2 separate regions of the Homo sapiens genome follow, and region 2 is linked to region 1. The links come from fine-mapping of genetic effects on gene expression. Tissue or cell type: whole blood. Region 1 holds a variant in brackets; the other region holds the start of a gene. All regions are shown on one strand. Distances are between the middles of the regions.

Region 1 (8,000 bases):
TGCACTGTGACAGGACAGCACTGAGTTCAATGTGCAATCCCCAAATTGCTGCACTCTCCCTCCCCCAAGTACACAGATTATTTCCTTGCCACACACAGCTGCTGCCAGGGGAGGGGCGGAGGGTGGTGCTGGTGATTCAAGACTGCCTTTCCTACCCTCTTCAGTGCCTCTTTCAGTGATATGAAGTTAAAACCAGGTACTGTGATTACTCACCTGATTTTTGGTTCTTATGAAGGTGCTTTATTGTGTGCAAATTTTTGGGAGGTGGGTTGTACAATTGGTGGAGCCTTCTATTTTGCCATCTTACTCTGGTTTGTAATTTTATGTCTTTGAAAAGAAGCTGAGATAAGAAAGCAAGTATGTATTTATAGTTTGTTATATTAACTTTCTTACTTATCATTTCTGGTTATCTTGGTGTGTTTTTGTGGATTTGAGTTACCATCTGGTGTCACTTCCTTACTCTAATATAGTTTTACTCCCATCTGACTCCTTTATGTTCTTATTATCAAATATATTTCTGGCTGGGTGCAGTGGCTCACGCCTGTAATCCCAACACTGTGGAAGGCCGAGGCAGGAGGATCACTTGAGCTCAGGAGTTCCAGGCTGCAGTGAGCTATGGTCACACCAGTGCCCTTCAGCCTGGGTGACAGGTGGAGACCCTGTCTCTAAAAAAATAAAAACTAAGGCTGGGCGCAGTGGCTCACGCCTGTAATCCCAGCAGTTTGAGAGGCCAAGGCGGGCGGATCACAAGGTCAAGAGATCGAGACCATCCTGGCCAACATGATGAAACCCTGTCTCTACTAAAAATACAAAAATTAGCTGGGCGTGGTGGCACGCACCTGTAATCCCAGCTACTCGAGAGGCTGAGGCAGGAGAATCAGGAGGCAGAGGTTGCAGTGAGCTGAGATCGTGCCAATGCACTCCAGCCTGGCGACAGAGTGAGATTCCGTCTCCAAAAAAAAAAAAAGTAAATAAATGAACATTACATTTCTATATGCTATAGACCTGACAGTGCAACTGTATACATGTTTTATACAGTTGCTTTTTAAAATCAGTTAACAGAAGAAATATACAGTTTGTGTTTTGTAATTATCTTTACAGATTGGGATTACTATTTGGAGTTAGTTACTTTTGGTCTGAAGAGCTATCCTTTGTATTTCTTGTAAGACAGGTCTGCTGGCAGTAAATTCTCTCAGCTTCTGTTTATTTGGGAATGTCTTTATTTTGATTTCTTTTCTTTCTTTTTTTTTTTTTTTTGAGACGGAGCCTCACTCTGTCACCCAGGCTGGAGTGCAGTGGCATGATCTCAGCTCACTGCAACCTCTGCCTCCTGGGTTCAAGAGATTCTCCTGACTCAGGCTCTTGAGTAGCTGGGATTACAGGCACGCATCACCATGCCCGGCAAAGTTTTGTATTTTTAGTAGAAACAGGGTTTCACCACGTTGGCCAGGCTGGTCTCGAACTCCTGACCTCAGGTGATCCACCCGCCTTGGCCTCCCAAAGTGCTGGGATTACAGGCATGAGCCACCACACCTACCCTAGTTTAACCTGTTTTTATTCCCAGTTCTTGGCGTTCATTTTTTTAGTACTGTCTTCAACATGTATAACTTACAGTTCATGTATTTTAGAAGTATACAAACATAACTCTGAATGCTAAATTTTGGTGTGAAGAAGATTCACACTTGAGATTACTATAAGTTATTTTAATGAAAATATTGTATTACGTTTTCTGATTTTAAGAGCAATAAGTACTTTTTGTAAGAAGAGGGAAAAAAAAAAAACCACTAGACTCCTGATATAAAAGTCAGTATCCCCCTGCAATCCCATCTCCCAGATATAAACACTATCAGGGTAATATGACCTTCTATAAACTTTTTGTTGTAGCTCCGGCAGGAGCCTGTGGTGGTGTTCTGGCACCTCCTGCAGGTACAGCAGCAAGTTCCAAGGCTGTCCTCTTCACTGTAGGGTCTCCTCCACACAGTGCGGCAGCCCCCACTTGTACCCACATGTTCCTTCGAACAAGAACAACCTCAGGTAAGGAGCATTTGTTATATTACAGTCTTTGGCTAGTATTTGGAATGTAGTGTTTTGACAAATGACTCAGTGTTGTAACTTGGACAAGTCACTTAATTCTCTGGGCTTCAGTTTCTTTACCAGTGAAATGGAGATTACTATTTTCTTTATCTTAATGGGTTATAAGAAGTAAATGAGGCATCATTTGTGGGGAAAAAAACTTTGTAAAGTGCTATATTATATATTAAAATATAAATATATGTTGTATATGTTTTTACAAAATGACATATAGTATAAATATGACTTCTTCGTGAAGAAGCAAATCGTATATGGTTCTTCTCAGCTTATATATTAAAGGGTTACTTTAGTAGATCCAATAAATTATTTGAAAATTATAGGTTTGGTTTTTTTTTGGTTTTTTTTTTTAAAGAAACTTGTTTTGGCTAGGTGAGGTGGCTTATGCCTGTAATCCCAGCACTTACTTTGGGAGGCTGAGGCAGGCAGATCACTTGAGGCCAGGAACTCGAGACCAGCGTGGCCAACATGGTGAAAACCTGTCTTTACTAAAAATACAAAAATTTAGGCAGGTGTGGTGGCAGGTACCTGTAATCCCAGCTACTCAGGAGGCTGAGGCAGGAGAATCACTTGAACCTGGGAAGTGGAGGTTGCAGTGAGCCGAGATTGCGCCATTGCACTCCAGCCTGGGTAACGAGCGAAACTCTGTTTCAGAAAAGAAAGAAACTTGTTTTATTTATTTATTTTTAATTTTTTGTACTTTGGGTCTCAATCTTTGCACTTAATCCTATATACAGTTAGAAGGCTAATAGATTTATCATTTATAATCTGTAAATAGGTTAATACCAAAACTTAAGAAAGTATTTAGATTGGACTTGAAATCAATAATTTGATGTCTTATCTGTTGTATCATGAGTCAAGTTATCTTATTCTAAATAAGTTGCTGATCAAGAGACCAGGTTAATAAGCAAAGGATAGAAATAGATAAGAGAAAATAGATCTAAAATTATGTTTTTAAGACGATTAAAAACCTTGAATAATAAGAAAATACCATTTTACGAAAGTAACATTTTATATCTGTTAACTATACCTATATCTTAAAAAGTACAATGCCCAAGACTGGGCATGGTGGTTCATGCCTGTAATCCCAGCACTTTGGGAGGCCGAGGCAGGAGGATCACTTGAGGTCAGGAGTTTGAGACCAGCCTGGGCAACATGGTGAAACCCCATCTCTACAAAAAAAATACAGAAATTAGCCAGACATGGTGGCATACGCCTATAGTCCCAGCTACTTGTGAGGCTGAGGTGAAAGAATTACCTGAGCCCAGAAAATCAAGGCTGCAGTGAGCTGTGATCACGCCACTGCAATTCAGCCTGCGCAACAGCAAGA[C/A]CCTGACTCAAAAAAAAAAAAAAAAAAAAAAAAAAAAAAGTATCATGTCCAGTGTTATTGAGGTTTAGTAGGATCTATGTGCTTACTCAGGGCTGCGTTAGAGAGTACTATAACAGTTCTTAGGAAGAGCTGTAAAAATATTTATTGATCTATGCTAATTCCATTCCTTCTTATACCACTTCAGAGTATTTATCACAAAGAAATTATTCAAAAGAAGGAACAACTGTCTGCATTTCATTACAGTGCTATTTGTAATATGAATAAAATCAGAAATAGTATAAATGACTCCAGATAAACATTATATAATATATATAAATTTAATGAATCAGTGCATCCATTGAGTTTTATAATTATGAGGCCCTGTGGAGCAGCAAGGAGAAATGAATATGATCTAAATTTGTTTAAAACAGAGTATAAAAAAACTAGCTCTGATGATGTCTAATATAAAATATATAGACAAGGAATAACAATGAACATGGATAAGTAAAAACTATTAATATCCTCAAATAGTACATAGGGGGTCAGTGAGTTTCTTTTAACGAAACTTTCCTTTGTCACCTCAGCAGGTTTGTTTAGTAAATAAGAGTAGGAGTGGGTGTGAAAGCCCTAACTCTGGACACTGCCATGTATCCTCTGTTTCCTTGTAGTGGGGCCCAGCAACTCCGGGGGCTCTCTTTGTGCCATGAGTGGCCGCGTGTGCGTGGGGTCCCCGCCTGGCCCAGGCTTCGGCTCTTCCCCTCCAGGAGCAGAGGCAGCTCCCAGCCTGAGATACGTGCCTTACGGTGCTTCACCCCCCAGCCTAGAGGGGCTCATCACCTTTGAAGCCCCTGAACTGCCGGAGGAGACGCTGATGGAGGTAGAAAAGAGACTATAGTGGTGTGAATGTAATGTTGATTTGATATGAGAACATTCTAGTGATGACAAGAACAAAATACATTAAATAGTTAGGAAGTTATGTTCTCTTTAACGTGCCTTTTCTGTTTGAAAAGTATTGCTGATGTCTTTTTAAATTAACATTGACAGTGACACTCATCCATAATAAGCTTTGGTTTATAGGAAGAAACACATAGATTCTGTGTTTTTCTTTCTTTCTTTTTTTTTGAGACAGAGTCTTGCTCTGTCACCCAGGCTGGAGTGCAGTGGTGCAATCTCGGCTCACTCCCACCTCTGCCTCCTGGGTTCAAGCAATTCTCCTGCCTCAGCCCCCACGAGTAGCTGGGATTACAGGCACACGCCACCATGCCCGGCTAATTTTTGTATTTTTAGTAGAGACGGGGTTTCACCATGTTGGCCAGGCGGGTCTCGAACTCCTGACCTTGTGATCTGCCCACCTCTGCCTCCCAAAGTGCTAGGATTACAGGCGTGAGCATTCTAGTACATTCTATTGCATGTTCCAGTGTATTGAAACATACAGTGCAATATGCTGTCACAGAGCAGAGAGACTTTTAGAAGTCAATTGGCTTATTCTCCTGTCACTAGGAAAATGATTCTCATCTTTATTTAACCATAAAAGAGTGGGAAACTTTTAGGCTTGAGATTTCAGAATGCATTTATAACTAAAAACAAATCTCAAAACAACAATCTAGAATACCCATTTATTTATTTATTTATTTGTTTGTTTGTTTGTTTGTTTATTTGAGACAGAGTCTTGCTCTGTCACCCAGGTTGGAATGCAGTGGTGCGATCTCAGCTCACTCTAACTTCCACCTCCTGGGTTCAAGCCACTCTCCTGCCTCAGCTTCCTGAGGAGCTGGGACTACAGGCACATGCCACCACGCCCAGCTAATTTTTGTATTTTTAGTAGAGACGGGATTTCGCCATGTTGGCCAGGCTGGTCTCAAACTCCTGACCTCAGGTGATCCACCCGCCTTGGCCTCCCAAAGTGCTTGGATTACAGGCATGAGCCACCATGCCCGGCCTAGAATGCCCATTTTTAAATGACAGCCCTCTGAATGCTGTTATGTCTACCCACACTCCCCTCTTTAACTAACTGAAAAGATCACAGAAAGTTAGAGCTTTGGTATTAGTAATCACTGTTAACTGAAAAACGACCAGAAATTAAATAAAGCAACTCTGAAATTATAAGAAGTCAGCAGAATTCAATACAGTATCAAGAAGTGTGATTTAGCACCTATAGTATCCTTGTAATCTTTGTGTCTACCTTGTCACGTTTTTGTCTCATGTATATTGATTTAATCGTTCAGCTTTCTTTTCTTTTTCTGGTAAAAGCACAGCGACCCATCCTGAGTTTACTTATGTGGGTACTCTGATACACATACACAAACACATGCATATACCTATATTTGGTTTCATTTGTGTTCATTTTCTTACCAGCTTTCTGAAATTTAAAAATTTCAATCTCCTTTTGTCATTCTGATACTCATAAGTATAGAAAACATGATCAGCGGCCATGGTTTATGTACAGAAATGAGTATGTACGTATTTTTAATCTGAAATTTTCTAAGACAAATTGACTTTGCTGCAGCGGGAACACACAGACACCTTACGCCATCTGAATGTGATGCTGATGTTCACTGAGTGTGTGCTGGACCTGACAGCCATGAGGGGAGGAAACCCTGAGCTGTGCACATCTGCTGTGTCCTTGTACCAGATCCAGGAGAGTGTGGTGGTGGACCAGATCAGTCAGCTGAGCAAAGACTGGGGGTGGGTGCCCCCTTGTCATTCATTTCCAGACTTTTCATGCTTTGTCTAAACTTGTGTCTAAGTTGTAGGTATTGTCATCCACTGAAGATCATATCTCATTATTAAAAGCTAGGAGTCTCAATTATTTCTTTGTACTACATTTCACTATATGAGCCAAGACCTGGAGATTATGCAACCTCAGTGTTGCCTTTCCTTGTAAATTATACTGTTGAAGTTCTTTTGTGTAAATAGATTGTATTGATTTTTATCTGAGTGTATCCGTTATTTTCACAGTACACACATCTTTAACTATGCCTTGTCCCTTGAGAGTTTACTTGTGCATTAAGAAATTAAGGAGGGCTGGTCGCAGTAGCTTATGCCTATATGTAATTCCAGCACTTTGGGAGGATGGGGCAGAAGGATTGCTTGAGCCCATGGGTTCGAGACCAGCCTGGGCAATATGATGAATCCCTGTCTCTACAAAAAATACAAAAATTAGCCGGGCATGGTGGTGCGTCCCTGTGGTCCCAACTATTAATATTCGGGAGGCTGAGGTGGGAGGATCCCTTGAGCCCAGGAAGTAGAGGCTGCAGTAAGCCAAGATCAAGCCACTATACTTCGGCCTGGGGGACAGAGCAAGACTCTGTCAAAAAAAAAAAAAAAAAAAGAAAAGAAAGAAGAAAAGAAATCAAAGAGGATGCTATTCCTTTATAGAAAGGCAATTTTAATGGTGACCTGTTGTGTAGAGTGCCACATCTTACATTAGTTCACAAGATAACCCTCTGCTACTGTCTTTTGGGTGCAGGCGGGTGGAGCAGCTGGTGTTGTACATGAAAGCAGCACAGCTGCTTGCGGCTTCTCTGCATCTTGCCAAAGCCCAGATCAAGTCCGGGAAACTGAGCCCATCCACAGCTGTGAAACAAGGTATGGGAGAAGGCAGCGTGTAACTCCAGGGGTCAGTCCTTAAGTTGCTCTTTCCCATCACACTGTGAGAGAGTGTCTGATGAGTACTCACTGTTGTTTTTATTTTTCAGTATTCTTAAAGGGAAAAGATGCTGGGTTGTTAGCTTTTTGCAGTTCAATTGATAGAAGTCTGAAGTGCATTATTCTCAATCTTTTCATATTGAAAGAGATAACATGAAAAAATCCTATTTCTGGTCCTTTTTTTGAATGATCACATAGTGACACCTTCCCTATATATCAGCAGGAAAGATACATATAACTGTGTCTTTATTTCTGGAGGAAAATTAAAATTAGTTCCCATCTCAATTTTTTTTCAGTTGTCAAGAATCTGAACGAACGATATAAATTCTGCATCACCATGTGCAAGAAACTTACAGAAAAGCTGAATCGATTCTTCTCTGACAAACAGAGGTTTATTGATGAAATCAACAGTGTGACTGCAGAGAAACTCATCTATAATTGTGCTGTAGAAATGGTAACCCTTTCTAAGGTTTAATATTGTATAGTACTACTTATCTTTAAGTGTCTTTTTAATTGAATATCTATATGACAGCTATCCTTTTAAAAGATAATGTCTCAAGTCCCAAGTATTGTGGATTGCCTTCTACTAAAGAAGTAATTGGATTTAAGCAACTGTTAATGTCATTTACTGGATGTATTTTAAGTAATTACAAATCCGTTTACCACATTTGCTATAAGTTTATTACAGCTCTTATTAAACATTGCTGGCATTAGGCATGATCTAATCTTTTTTTTTTCTTTTTTTTTTTTTCTTGAGACGGAGTTACTCTGTCGCCCAGGCTGGAGTACAGTGGCACGATCTCAGCTCACTGCAACCTCTGCTTCCCAGATTCAAGTGATTCTCCTGCCTCAGCTTCCTGAGTAGCTGGGATTACAGGCACTTGCCACCATGCCCAGCTAATTTTTGTATTTTTAGTAGAGATGGGGTTTTGCCATGTTGGCCAGGGTGGTTTCC
Region 2 (8,129 bases), 84 kb before region 1:
CCCGCCTCGGCCTCTCAAAGTGCTGGGATTGCAGGCGTGAGCCACCGCGCCTGGCCAAATTTTATACTGATTTTTGCACAATATAAAAAGATGCTCCCTGCTGTTTTTGTTTGTTTGTTTGTTTTTTGCATTGCATCAAAATATTCCTAGGCTGAACTTTGTTACTGATATCATTTCAGAAAATTTACATTTATTATTCAGAAGATTTGTCATTATGGTATTTTTTAAAACTTTAAAAAACATACTAAAAATTTGTTATTGCTTCCTTTTTTGTGCTTATTTTTCGTATTTTATTGTAAATTCTTGCATTTATAAATATCAAAGCACTGCACCCTAACTATTCACAAGAATTTCAAAGCATCAGCAATGTCATCAAAGTAGAAACAATAGAACCAAAATAGAAGGAATAGCAATGATGTAATTTGAAGATAATAATAAACTGGCTATTCTCCTGCATCTTGGAATGCCTCCCTGCCCAGCAGAATATTTCTCACATTTATTTTCACAGGATACCTTTTATCATCAGAACATTTCTATAGCACTGGATGATAAACTAAACAGTTTATATTAGAATTTATATTAGTAATTAATTTTTTTTTAAGACAGTGTCTCATTTGTCACCTAGGCTGGAGTGCAGTGGTGCGATCCCGGTTCACCACAACCTCTGCCTCCCGGGTTCAAGCAACTTTCCTGCCTCAGCCTCCCGAGTAGCTAGGATTACAGGCGAATGTCACCACACCTGGCTAGTGTGTGTGTGTGTGTGTGTGTGTGTGTGTGTGTGTGTGCATGTGTGTGAGATGGATTTTTGCTCCTCTCATCCAAGCTGGAGTGCAATGGTGCAATCTTGGTTCACTGCAACCTCCGCCTCCTAGGTTCAAGTGATTCTCCTGCCTTAGCCTCCCGAGTAGCTGGGATTACAGGCACACACCACCACGCTCGGCTACTTTTTGTACTTTTAGTAGAGATGGGGTTTCACCATGTTGGCCAGGCTGGTCTGGAACTCCTGACCTCAGGTGATCCACCCACCTCAGTCTCCCAAAGTGCTGGGATTATAGGCGTGAGCCCCTGTGCCTGGCCTATATTAGTAATTAATTTTACCTCTCATTGCAGTTACTGTTTTTCTATTTACTAACTGGTATTGAAACATTTCAACAGTTAAGCATGTTTAGACACACATGCATATGCACACACAGGACAAATTAAGAACAATGAACATGAATCAAATTGGCAATTTCCAGTGATTTTAGAGGTAAACTAGAAATCTGCCCTGGCCTCCATTCTCAAATGAAGCCTAAATTTGACCTAGGGTGAACACTTCCTGGGGTGCCTATGTGGCCCCTGCTTCTGGGGACTCAGAACACCCACAGGCTTGTGTTGGGGGCAGCCATAGTTACATGATCCTGCCTTCCTCAGTCCCATTCCTGGCTTCCGATGATTGTTCAGGGCCCAGCACCCAGCTGAAGTTAGGTTGATCAGAATCCCCTCCTTAAGAATTTGGTGGCTGGGCCCAGTGGCTCACGCCTGTAATCTTAGCACTTTGGGAGGCCGAGGCAGGCGGGTTACCTAAGGTCAGGGGTTCAAGATCAGCCTGGCCAACATGGTGAAACCCCGCCTCTACTAAAAAAGCAAAAAAAATTTTAGCTAGGTGCAGTGGCACGCAACTGTAATCCCAGCTACTTGGGAGGCTGAGGCAGGAGAATCGCTTGAACCTGGAAGGCGGAGGTTGCGGTGAGCCGAGATCGTAACACTGTACTCCACCCTGGGCGACAGAGCAAGACTTCGTCTCAAAAAAAAAAAAAATTTGGTTTGGAGACTGGGGCTGCCATTGCCACCATGTAGGAGATCTCAGGCAAGAGAACAAAGCAGGGGCACAGACGGAAGGCAGTTCTCTTTGAGATCCTGGTTCTGCGGGTAGTTTGCTTTTGAAGCCCAACTTTGAACTCTGAGAAGCACACCTGTATCTTTATCTACATTCTTTATTTTTCACTTTATCACATTTGACGTTTGCTATTTGCTACCAACATAGTCCTAACTAAACATTTTTTAGCAAAGCACCCCCTGCCTCCTGCCCCCACTTCTTTTCTGACTCTTGAGGTCAGAAATCCTGCACATTTTGCTTTTCAAATGGATATGTCCATGGGGCCCATGTTTGGCCTGTGAATACAGGACACGCATGTCCAAACGAAGGGCCTATTGGAGGTTTCTGAAAAATACCTTCATGTGGCCGGGCGCAGTGGCTCACGCCTGTAATCCCAGCACTTTGGTAGGCCGAGGTGGGCGGATCACGAGGTCAGGAGATGGAGACTGTCCTGGCTAACACGGTGAAACCCCGTCTCTACTAAAAACATACAAAAAATTAACCGGGCGTGGTGGCGGGTGCCTGTAGTCCCAGTTACTCCGGAGGCTGAGGCAGGAGAATGGCGTGAACCCGGGAGGCAGAGCTTGCAGTGAGCTGAGATCGTGCCACTGCACTCCAGTCTGGGCGACAGAGCAAGACTCCGTCTCAAAACAAACAAACAAACAAACAAAAAACCTTCATGTGGCTAGGTGAGGTGGCTCACACCTATAATCCCAGCACTTTGGGAGGCCGAAGTGGGCGGATCGCTTGAAGTTGGGAGTTTTGAGACCAGCCTAGCCAACATGGTGAAACCCCACCTCTACTAAAAAAAAAAAAATTAGCCGGGCATGGTGGTGCAGGTCTGCAATCCCAGATACTTGGGAGGCTGAGGCAGGAGAATCACTTGAACCCAGGAGGCGGAGGCTGCAGTGGGCCGAGATCATGCCATTGCACTCCAGCCTGGGCAACAGAGCAAGACTCTGTCTCAAAACAAAAAACAGGCCGGGCGTGGTGGCTCACGCCTGTAATCCCAGCACTTTGAGAGGCCGAGACAGGCTGATCCCTTGAAGTTGGGAGTTTGAGACCAGCCTGGCCAACATGGTGAAACCCCATCTCTACTAAGATACAAAAATTAGCTGGGCGTGGTGGTGCGTGCCTGTAATTCTAGCTGCTTGGGAGGCTCAGGCAGCAGAATCACTTGCACTTGGGAGGCAGAGGTTGCAGTGAACCAAGATTGTGCTACCGCACTCCAGCCTGGGTGACAGAGTAAGATTCTGTCTCAAAAAAAAAAAAAAAAAAAAAAGTAAACAAAAAAATAGACTGTAGAGAATCTTTCAGTGAGGTAAGGAATCATCTCCATCCATTTTTGGGTGTATGTGCAAACTTGCTTAAGTTGCTGTCAACTTTTGAAGGCTCCAGATTTTCAGTGTCTAACACAACCACCTGGGCCAGATGTAAGTAAGGACAGGATAACGTAAGCGTGCACAGTAGCAGAAGCAGAAACTCAAGGCCCTACGTTTTGAGCGTGTGAGGAAGGAGCGTTCTCTCAGAATCCTGGAGCTGACTCTGTCATGGTTCAGAGATCAGCTTGCAGGGACAGGCAGTGGCAGTCGAGGTGGTGACAGACCCCAAAAGCACATACCCTATACAACCGAACACACACTCAAGTGTGGAGCCTGCGTATTCCATGGTAGTTTCAAGCATATTGTTTATTAAATGGTTTCATAAGACACTTCTTTGCGGGAAACCTGACAATCTGTTCCTTGTCACTTGGACAGCTTTAACAATCAGGTAGAAAAGAAAGCTCCCTTCGGCCATGTGAAGTAAGCCCGAGGTCAAACTAGCCTGACACTAGGAGCTCCCAGGAGAACCTTGAAAACGTGTGCGATTCTGAGTCGGTGTGCAGAAACGATTCTCTGCGAAGAGGGCCCTGAGCTGTCACCAGCTTCTCGCAGTCAAGGGACCCCCAAAAGGTGCAGAATCCCGCCTGTCACCGTCCCTCTAGGGATCCTAAGCGAGTAAACCCCGAGAGGCGTCCGAAGGCTGGCAGTTTGGCAGCGTGAACTCTGGTTTTCCAGAGCGCGGGCAAAGCCTGGAGTAGCAGTTGCTCCTTTGCTCTGGCAGGAATCTGGGGGTCTACCCTGCGCAGATAATCCCGTCCTGCCTGCAGCTGGGGTTCAAGACCCGCTTCTCTGAAGTCCGCCTCCCAGCGGCCTGGAGCCCGGGGCGTGGTCGGCTCGAATCTGCTCCCCAGGCCCAGAACGGAGCCCGCAGCCCGTAACCCGCTGTGGCCGCAGCGGGTCGCGCCCTTCGTCCCCGCCTCAGGAGCGGCCGAGGATCTGCCCAGCTGCGGGCGCCAAGCCCTGGCCGCACTCCTTTCCCCGGCGGAGGGAGCCGGCTGGCGCTGCGGCCTTCAAGGCGCGCGGACGTCGCGGAGGGCAGCCAGTCGCGCGGGAGCGGGTAGCGCGCGCGAGGGCGTTGGGCGCCGCCGCGAGGCGGGGAAGCGCGGGGCCGCGGCGGTGCGGGTTCTAGGGCGGCGGCCGTCGCCGTCGCAGCAGCGCCCCGAGCGGGGAGGGCCGAGGAGGCCCGACGAGCTGGGGATGGAGAGTACCGGGCCCCTCACTGCCTCAGAGCGCGTGTGCGGCTCTGGGCGCGCACAGTGACGGTGACGGCACCCCTGGCCCGGCAGCGCCGAGGCCGCTTCGCCAGACAGCCAGCGGCCGGCGGCAGGCCGGGCCATGAGCGGCAGGGGCCGGGCCGGGCCTCGCTGACCCTGGCTCCGCGCGGCAGCTTCCCCAGTTTCCGCTCCGGTCTCTCGGCATGAGAGTCCGCCCGGGCCCGGGGCTGCGGCTGCCCCAGACCCGCCGCACGCTGGCGCGCTCCGGGCCCGCGGAGCCGCGGTGCTGATACCTGCGCCGCACTGCGCCGCCCGCCCGTCCGCTGTGTGCCCCGGGGGCGCGGCCATGGAGGTGGTGGGTGACTTCGAGTACAGCAAGAGGGATCTCGTGGGACACGGGGCCTTCGCCGTGGTCTTCCGGGGGCGGCACCGCCAGGTGAGCGCCGGCCGGGGCGAGGCCGGGCCCCGGGCGGCAGGCACGGGGCTAGGTGGTTCTGAAACTTGGCGCAGCCGCGAGCCGAGACCCCCGACTCGGCTAGCCGCCCGGGTATGCTATTGTGCGCGCAGCCCGTCTCGCCGTTTGTTTTGGTCCTGTGAGGGTTGTTGTGAGGCCCAAGCCTCTGGCAGCGCTCCGCCTACCGACCGGCTGCTGCTGATCCTCCTGTGTGCCCGGGGCCCACCCCGCGGTCCGCCCGCAGGAGCGTTTGCACCCAGGTTACCCTGGACCCAAAATAGACGGTACTGCACCGTGCAGACTCGAGGGTTGGGCGTGAATGGACCTTTGGTTTTTTTCCCCGTGCCCAGGGCTGGTCACTTTTGAGGTTGATAATTACAGACCCAGCGGAAAATGGGCGGATGTCCCATTAGCCTCAGGCTTTCGCAGCCTGGGAGGTGTCACCTTTCCCAGCACTGGTCCCCTGCACCCCGAAGAGCCCCCGTACCGTTTTCCCCCCCGGAGTCAGATAGACGAGCTCCGGGTGAGAAAGGTGGTTGGACAATTCATTTTCAATCACCTTGAACATGAAATCACCTTTAAGCCTTAAAAAAATTGTTTTAAGCCTTTGCTGTTTCGCAAGTACAGTTACACGAGGTTTTAGAATCTAAAGAATTTGGAAAGGCATATCGGGAGTGGAAATAATCTTAAAGGGTGTGGCAGTTCTGATTGTTGCCCAAGGGGCGTGTTAAAAGTGGGCTGACTTTGTTGCTTATCGGATGAAGTAATGCTACTTTTCTTATTTATTTATTTATTTATTTTTGAGACAGAGTCTCGCTTTGTCGCCGAGGCTGGAGTGCCGTGGCGAGATCTCCGCTCACTGCAACCGCTGCCTCCCGGGCTCAAGCGATTCTCCTGCCTCAGCCTCCTGAGTAGCTGGGATTACAGGTGCCCGCCACCACGCCCGCCTAATTTTTTTTTTTTTGTATTTTTAGTAGAGATGGGGTTTCACCACGTTGGCCAGTGTGGTCTTGAACTCCTGACCTCAGGTGATCCGATCTGCCCGCCTCAGCCTCCCAAAGTGCTGGGATTACAGGTGTGAGCCACGGCTCCCGGCCTACTTTTCATTTATTAGGAAAATAATTTAGAACTCAAGCACGGTGTAATCCTTCCAAGCTAACAAATAACTTTTCAATTAACTGTATCACCTTCCAAGTTTATTTCTACATTTGTCCATAACTTTGAAGTGGTTGTGAACTGTTCTTTTTTCATTTAATGTTAGTTACCATGTGGACTTCATATTTGTTATTTTTAGAAGTTGTGTTGTAGGATCTTGGCATATTGCACTATAATTTATGAAATCACTTTCCAATTATTGAAAATAATTCCATTTTTCCCCAATGCCGTACATTTATTTGCCAAAAACACCTTCGCGCTTGTAAATTTTTTTCTGTTATTTATGTGGAATGGTATCTAGGAGTAACACTGTTTTTCCTTTTCAGAAAACTGATTGGGAGGTAGCTATTAAAAGTATTAATAAAAAGAACTTGTCAAAATCACAAATACTGCTTGGAAAGGAAATTAAAATCTTAAAGGTATGTTACTTTATGTAGTAGTATTCATATAAGGTTAAAACTTAATTTAAATGAATACATGCTGCCATCCTTTTCAATTTTGGTAGTTGGGTCCAAGTTTGAGAATTTTCAACTGTTGCTCTCCTTTTTGCATGCTCACTTTTTTAAAACATTGAGTACTCGGAAGCTATTTTTAAGAACCAAAGCTCAGAGGGATTCTGTGAAGACTGAGTTTAGCTTCTCATCATTTCTCTTTTTCCTAGTGACTGTGTTGTTGTTTGAGAAGAGGGCCAGGCAGACCCATCTTGTACATTGTTTTTACCTCTCCTGTTGTCCCCTTTCATGTTACTACTAAGTTTTTTGGGGGGAGTAGGGGTGCTTGGGGTCTTTCTTTAAATTGAAGAAAGTTATATTCCTTGGAGGTGGCCTTTTTAGATCACTCACAACCAGTGTTATCTAAGTGGGATGGTTTGAGAAGATGGTTGAGTACGTTTGGAAAACCCCATTTACTAAATACTTCTTGGAGAGTCACAAAGCCTATGGCTCATTAAAGAAAGTCTGAAAAATTCTACAATGAAGAAACTTGTTTCAAAGTACTTAACCTGGTGTTTTCCAAACTAATACAAGCGTGGAACCCTCATTTAACACCCGATTTCCTCAAAACTGCTTCCTGTGGAGAGCTCTTTTTTAAGAATTGTAGCTCTTTGAGCTAAAAATCATATTTTCTTTCAGTGAGATAATGTGCTTTTTGTTTGATCAGGCACATTTCTTATTCTTTAATTGAATTTTTATAGTCTTAATATAAGTATAATACTAGAAGTGTATGTGTATACTTTAATTTTATTTACATATTAAAATATAGTAAAGTCATTAGAATACTTACATATTTTTCATTCTCAATTTTCTTAATAGGAACTTCAGCATGAAAATATTGTAGCACTCTATGATGTTCAGGTACCTTATTTTGAAAATTTTTAAAAATTAAAATAAATTTTTTTTAATTTCATACAGATTTAAGTGACTCTTAATAGAAATAAAAATGACCTTAATTCTTGTTGAAAAGATGCATAGCTTGAGTTACATGTTTCTGAATTAAGAAATTGTTTAAAACAGAACAGAGTAATAGGCTGAAAGAATTTGCTGCATGAGTAAGTTTATTAACAATTGATAATACACTATAGGTGTAGCATTGTTTTAGGTGAAGTAGAGGACTGTTGATACCAGATCTAGCATTCTCTGATGAATGTTGAAAGGACAATTAAAAATAGAGCTTTTTTTTTTTTTGATGGAGTCTCACTCTGTCTCTTGGGCTGCAGTGCAGTGGCTTGATCTCGGCTCACTGCAACTGCTACCTCCCGGGTTTAAGCGATTCTCCTGCCTCAGCCTCCCGAGTAGCTAGGACTATAGGTGTGCACCACCATGCCCAGCTAATTTTGTGTGTGTGTGTTTTTCATAGAGATGGAGTTTCACCATGTTGGCCAGGCTTGTCTCGAACTCCTGACCTCAAGTCATCCTCCCACCTTGGCCTCCCAAAGTACTGGGATTACAGGCGTGAGCCACTGCGCCCCGCCTAAATAGAAGTTCTTTTTTTAAAAAAACATTTTTTTTATTTTGTAGAGATAGGGTCCCTCTGTGTTGCTCAGGCTAGTCTTGAACTCCTGGGCTCAA

What was found. PIP is the estimated chance that this variant, and not a neighbour inherited with it, causes the effect.
Region 2: it holds the start of ULK2, and the variant in region 1 is fine-mapped to the expression of ULK2 in whole blood (INTERVAL, PIP above 0.99).

What each region holds. Positions count from the first base shown.
Region 1 is chr17:19,779,971-19,787,970 of GRCh38, reverse strand. It overlaps ULK2 (unc-51 like autophagy activating kinase 2), which reads left to right. Exons shown (of 27, transcript NM_014683.4): 21 at 1,885-2,034; 22 at 4,066-4,274; 23 at 5,904-6,082; 24 at 6,867-6,985; 25 at 7,342-7,499. Among named protein-coding and RNA genes, the nearest start is that of ALDH3A1, 36 kb to the right of the region's middle. The variant C/A (reference allele first, on the strand shown) is at 3,419.
Region 2 is chr17:19,864,089-19,872,217 of GRCh38, reverse strand. It overlaps ULK2 (unc-51 like autophagy activating kinase 2), which reads left to right and starts at 4,282. Exons shown (of 27, transcript NM_014683.4): 1 at 4,282-4,890; 2 at 6,390-6,482; 3 at 7,374-7,415. The coding sequence starts at 4,801. RefSeq lists silencers at 4,229-4,818, 4,899-5,078 and an enhancer at 4,657-5,165.